2 linked regions of the Homo sapiens genome follow. The protein of the gene in region 2 interacts with the protein of the main gene of each other region in a biochemical or structural test. Each region holds a gene or a part of one and is shown on either strand. Other genes may lie near its edges.

Region 1 (2,808 bases), about 41 Mb from region 2:
GTGTACATGCCCAGTTTTCAAAATAAGGCTGTTTCCAAAGACTGGAAAATGTACAGTCTTAACAATCAAGATTGCAACTCTCATCCATCCAAATATTTTACATTTCCCACATCTGTATACTATTTTACTTTGTAGGATAAATGGGTCGCTGAAAAGGTATACATATGTCCATTTTTGAGTGGTATTTTAGGTGTACTGAAAAATCTTTTTTATGACTCCATCATGAACATTTTAGAAACCTCGTGATTTTGCTTATAGACCCATATGTGGGATGTTGTTAGACCTTCCCAAATTATGTGTGAGAAATGGGTGATAAAATGCTAACATTTAAATAACTCTCCAATATATGATGGTATAGAAATTAGGCATGAAGTTCTCTACTCTCATTTTGATGGACCCGTGGATTTAGGCATATGCAGTCTTGGGGAGTAGAGAGCTTGGTGCCATATATTTAAATGCTGGCATTACTGAGGTTGGGGGCAGGGGGTCACAGAAGACCCAAAATGAACAGTTCATCTCTGGAATAAGGTGGAGTTGACAAATCTAGGTTGAATAGCATGTTTTCCTTGACATGATTTATCCTTGCTTTGACTCTGGCTATCCTGAGGTTGTGTAGTTACCCCATATGTATAACTGGCTTGGTTTATTAATCCTGTGGCTGAAGACTGTGCAACTGATTTAGTATTTATTGAGCTCCCACAACATGCCAAACACAGTATAAACCCCAGCATGTAGAGCTTCACATGTGATTCAGCAACACATGCATTTTACACACATAGCAAAGACATCAACGCATGAAGGTAAATCAATCAAGAACCTGCCTTGGGAAACAAAGGTGCTCCTGACCTCTCGTCTGTGAGGGACAGGCCCTGTGTTCACTCCCAGATCTAGCCACACTCTTGAGGTTAGTTTTGTGCCTTGCATTTGAAAGACTAACAGATGTTCAGGAATGCAAACCACAGGACAGAGGTCGTGGGTGAGCCTACCTGAGAAAATAAACCTGGAACTTAGCTATCCCAGTAAAACAGCAGATTGAAAATTCACAAGGACAAAAAATCAGACGGTTATAGGAACTGGAATATCCTTACCTTAGCATCTCTCACAATTGCTATTTCCAGGTAGCTGTTGGAGCATGCATTGAAACACTCTTCTGCCAGTTTAATGAGATAAATCTATTGATTGGCTGCCAAAAGTGTGACCTGGTGACAAAGCTTGCAAAGAGGATTACAGAACCTCCCATCAGCCTTGAGAAGGGCTGCTGCCAAGTACCAAGTTGGCTCAGTTCCCAGCCTGACTGCCTGTATTACTCCTTGCAGGAAGAGGACTGTGTATACATCTTAGATGCTTGATATTAACCAAAATGAATTATTAAATAAAATTTTCTACCTACAGTCCTACGCAGTTCTCTCTGGGACTCACCTCTGATTTTTTTGAAATTCGGTTTGATTTATAAACTAGTCCACAACACATTTCAGATGTTGTAAGAATTAATTGCTGTTCCGTTGCTGATTTTCATAATATGTAAAGATGTTTATAAGCACAATCTAATTCTCCAACCTCTTTAAGCTCTTTATAAAGTCCATGTAAGTGTTTCAAACTTAAGTTGTAGGCATGACAGAAACCAGTGGCAGCTTTTCTAGTAATTAATGGAGATGCTTGTTTTTCATAGTTGATATAAACTTAAGCTAATCAAGGAGCACTTTTTCTAACACCCTGACAACCAGGATTTAAAATAATTCATGGTATGTAAATTTGTTTTTTGTTGTTTTTTGTTGTTTTTGTTTTTTTTGTTTTTTTGAGACTAGATTTTGCTCTGTCACTGAGACTGGAGTGCAGTGGTGTAATGATAGCTCACTGCAGCCCAGTGATCCTCCCAGGCTCAAGTGATCCTCCTGCCTTTGTGTCCCAAGTAGCTGGGACCACAGGTGTGCACCACCACGTCCGGCTATTTTTTGTAGAGATGGAGTTTTGCCATATTTCCCAGGCTGGTCTTGAACTCCTGGGCTCAAGCAATTCTCCCTCTTCGGTCTCCCAAAGTTTTGGAATTATAGATGTGAGCCATGGTACCTGGCCATGGTATGTAACTTTATAATACAATTGACCTAAGGTTGAATGATGATATTCCTTCTGAATTGATTGGACTGATACATAAGAAATATGTAAGTAAACTGTTGAACGAATCCCTATATATTCTGATTTCAATAATTTGCCTCTTTGTGATTGAGCTGGTATTGCCTGAAGACTAAAAGAGTATTCTCTAAGTATGGCATGTAACACCGTCAAATTCAGCTCCAAATTATTAACACCTTTGGCAGGTACAACTAAAGCTTCATTCGGATGTTTCTGAGATTCATTAGAAAGAGGATTCCCGCCCCCACCCCCCACCCCGAGATGGAGTCTTGTTCTGTCACCCAGGTTGGAGTACACTGGCACAATCTCAGCTCACTGCAACCTCTGCCTCCCTGGGTTCAAGCAATTCTCCTGCCTCAGCCTCCCGAGTAGCTGGGATTACAGGCGTGCGCCACCACGCCTGGCTAATTTTTGTATTTTAAGTAGAGACAGGGTTTCAACACGTTGGCCAGGCTGGTCTCAAACTCCTGACCTTGTGATCTGCCTGCCTCGGTCCCCCAAAATGCTGGGATTACAGGTGTAAGCCACCATGCCCAGCCCTAGAAAGGATAATTCTTAAGGTGCTTAATCTTGGTTGCACATTAAAATCCCCTGAAGTGCTTTGGAAAATGCTAGTGTCCAGGCACCATCTCAAATCAACTAGACTCTTGGGAGGAGAGCCCAGACATCAATTACAAA
Region 2 (3,673 bases):
CTCTTTCCTTCCTCTGTCCAGGCTAACAGGGGCCCCATCAAGGCAGGGGTAGGCTGTGGAGGGAGGCCCCATGTGCTCCCCACATAAAGCACAGCAACAGCCTGTAGGCTGTCGGGGGAGCTCTGGGCAGATGGGGGAAGGAGGGCCCCCCAGCACACACACTTGGAACAGATGCACCAGCAGCCCCTAGCGCAGGTCCCAGAAGCTCAGCAGCACAGAAAGGCAAAATGGAGCAGGGCCTTGGTGAGCCCTTGGCCCAACCAGCACAGGAGCCGAAGCTCAGCGAAGGCAACGGCTCCTGAGTCATGAGCCAGCTCGGGGCTGAGTGGGACTGTGCCCAGGCCACTGGCTCCCCTGCTCCTAAGCAGCACGTAGCGAGGAAAGGGGGCTGGGGCAGGAGAGGGGAGCTGTGCAGACCAAGCTGGCCATGCCCAAAAAACAGTGGCAGCACCCAAATGGCGGAGGGGCGCGAGGAAGGGGCTGCGCTTGGCTGACACCACCTCTGAGTAGGGGACAGGGCCGACAGGGAAGGGTCATTTTCTACACGTACTGCCTATTTCAAGACCCATAGGCCCATCTCTCATTCCTCAACCCCCCACCCCAACACACCCTGCTCCCTACTTGGGCTCCCAGCCCCACCTGTGACAAGGCCCCAGCGGAGCCCAGGGGGCCAGTTACCTACTTGATGTGCTTGGCGCTCTTGTAGTGGATGAAGATGACAATGGGGTAGATGTGCATGTGGTGGAGCCGCTCAATAGCGTGCGGAGCAATGTCCAGGAGGCAGTGTCGGTTCTGGGGTGGGGGGTGCAGAGTGAGCCCTGGCGGGCAGTGAGGGGCAGCCAGCCCCCTGTCCTGCCACCAGCAGGACCCACCTCACCTCACAGGGCTCTACCCACAAACAAGGCAGTAAAGCCACACAGTACACCGTGGGGAAACCATACCCACGAAACTCCCAACAAACCCCACTTGCTGTGAGGAAGGCCAAGGCTGGGAGCCAGGGCTTAGGGGGCTAGGGGTGCTGGCCAGCCCAACTCCAAACTTCCTTTCCCGCCTTTGCCCAGATACAGGGACCTTCTGAAAGCCCTGCCCCACCCTGGCCTCTGAAGCCTTATTTTTGCCAGACTGAGCGAATGAAGAGCCAGAGTCTGGTGAGCCTTTGTGTGGCTGAGACTGAAATATGTCTGTCATGTCTGTCGTCCCAGGCATCCAGGTGGAGTGCAGGCCCGTGCACTCCCGACCCCCAGATGCTCCACTGGGGCATTCCCCCAAGTAGAGTTTGCCCACTTTCAGCAGTGAGAAGCCAACACCTTCATCTAACAGAGAAGGGAAGCAAAGCCCAGCGAGCGAGCTGAGCAGCCTGGAGAAATGGAGCCCAAGGAGCGGCTGTGTCCTTGGACTCCGAGTGTTTGCCCCACCAGCACTCCCCACAGACGTCCCCGCCCTCGTGCTGCCTAGGATGTTCGAAGGCACCGAGAGTCATAGCCCTTTTAGGGGCAGGGACCCTGAGGGAAGGCACGTTCCTGTCCCCAGAAGGTGCATGTGAAATTGTTCGGCACATGCATTTGGGGACCCCGTTCCGGAATGCCCTGCGAGAGGCCTTTCCGCAGAGCTCAATACTCTCATCAGAGATGAGACCCCCCGCACCTGCCAGAGAGGAAGATGGGGCGGCACATACACAGGGGAACTCCTCCATCCCCACCAAGGGATGTGCTTGCAGAAACACACAGCAGCCATGAGGGCAAGCCCAGGCACAGGTGAACTCAGACTAACACAACACGGTGGGCTCACTGAAGGTCTGAGCCGCTGGGGCAGAGGATCACGGACCAGGGGCCTAGACCTGTGCACAGGAGGTCTAATACTGGATGCCTAATCCTCAGACTGAAGCCCTGGGTACCTTTTCTGTGATCTCCTTTATTGACGCCACAGTGGTCACATCGAAATGGCCGCTTCTCCGCTTATAGTCGACAAACAGGCAATCTTTGACACCCCGCTCAATGGCCTGCTGGGAGGCCTTCATCACCTCTGCAATGCACAGACACAGGAATCAGGGAGCCCCAGGCCCTGCTGAGCCCCAGCAGAGGGAGCAGGGGAAGAACACTGCTCAGCAGCTGTCAGTAACCCAGTCCTGCCATGCATGAATCTGACCCATGTCAGCAGGCTTCTGGAACACTGTGAAATCTGCCCCCCGGTACTGCCACCCACTGTGCACAGCTGGGCAGGCAGGTGGACAGGGACATAGAGACAAAGAGCCCAGTAGGCACAGAGGGTGCCCCGTGCCCCTTACCAAGGGGACATCTGCAGAACTTGCCAGGAGCCTCATTCACCAGCATCTCCTTCACCACGTCCAGCAAAGGCCCCAGAATCAGGACAGGCCTCAGAGCGGTGCAGTCCACCTTCTGGACCCGCTGATAGGCCAGGCTCACCGAATCTGAGGGAGAGAGAGCAGCAGCGTCACGGACCCAGCTTGGAGTGGAGGACCTGAGTGGGGCTGGGGAACCCCGCTCCCTGACCTCGCCCACTCTGGTTTGCCTGGGACTCCCCCAGCTTCAGCACTGAAAATCTCGTGTCCCAGGCACAACCGGGCATCGTCACCCCTGGAGTCCAGCATGAGCACCCCCCATGCCCTCTGTGAACACCAGAGGCAGCTGGTCTCAACCACTCATCCCAGAGCTTCCTTCTGCTCTGATTTTTCCTCGTGGGTCGACGCCTGCTTCCCCTGCCCCATCTCCATTCTCCTCTGCTCTCTGGCAAGGCAGCCTCTGGGGTTTGGCAGGTAAAGCTCCCACTCCCCAGGAAGGTGTGGTCAGTGTAACCCAGACCTGCCCAGTGACAGGTGAGGCCTCCCCAATCTGCACGGCTAGAACAGGTGAGTGCTGTGAGCCAGCTCTGGCCATGCAGTTGAGGATAACCCTTAAGAAATGGCAGAGGCACAAGATGGAAGGGACCTGGGTCCTGGATGATCCTCAGAACGCAATGCCTCTCCCACATCAACCACAGCTCAGACTTGTACATGACAGAGAAATAAACTGCCCATTATGCTTAAGCCACTGTTATTTGGTTTCAGTTAAAGCAGTCAAACCAATATCCTAGTTGATACATGCAGTAAACCTCCCCTTGCACCAAATGAATAAAGTCCTTGCAGGGAGACACAGTCTAAAACCCAGCAAGATCTTCCTGGCGTCTCCCTGGTATAAGTCACTGTGCTGGAATCTCAGAAACATAATAAAGAATAGAACACAGAGTTCCTGCCATTAAAAAGCACACACTTTAACTAGAGTCACAACAGAGCAACACATGAACAGCAAGAGAGCACGCAAGAGCTGCCTGGCAATTCCAGGAGCGGCGGGCTTCAGTAGACACTGTGGCTGGATGACAGGGTGAAAAGACCACTTGGGCAGGCCCAGGAGGGAAGTGGGATGAGAGTCTCCAGAAAGAGCAGGGCAAGAGGATGAGTATGGAGATGATGGGGAGGGCAGAGCACAAGATGACTGCAGGCTTGGGAGGAAGGGTCCATGAGAGGCTTGGCCTGGAGGGATCTGTACGCATATGCAGAACAAGGAGTGACTGCAGAGCAGGCACAGGGACCAGGAGGCAGAAGGCTCAGGAGAACACAAGCACAGTGCCAGCTGCAGCAGCAGGCTCCATGAAGAGCAACCTGTGGGCAAACTCAGGG

The links. The genes of interacting proteins can lie anywhere in the genome.
Region 1: the proteins of DLG5 (region 2) and PRLHR interact in a test that uses a peptide from one of them, tested with the Homo sapiens proteins (one large-scale study listed by IntAct).

What each region holds. Positions count from the first base shown.
Region 1 is NC_000010.11:118,589,326-118,592,133, forward strand, and holds the end of PRLHR (prolactin-releasing peptide receptor), read right to left. Parts: 3' UTR 672-2,808; downstream 1-671. UniProt on the Homo sapiens protein: Receptor for prolactin-releasing peptide (PrRP). Implicated in lactation, regulation of food intake and pain-signal processing.
Region 2 is NC_000010.11:77,794,167-77,797,839, forward strand, and holds part of DLG5 (disks large homolog 5), read right to left. Parts: intron 2,429-3,673; coding exon 2,285-2,428; intron 2,023-2,284; coding exon 1,895-2,022; intron 793-1,894; coding exon 683-792; intron 1-682. UniProt on the Homo sapiens protein: Acts as a regulator of the Hippo signaling pathway.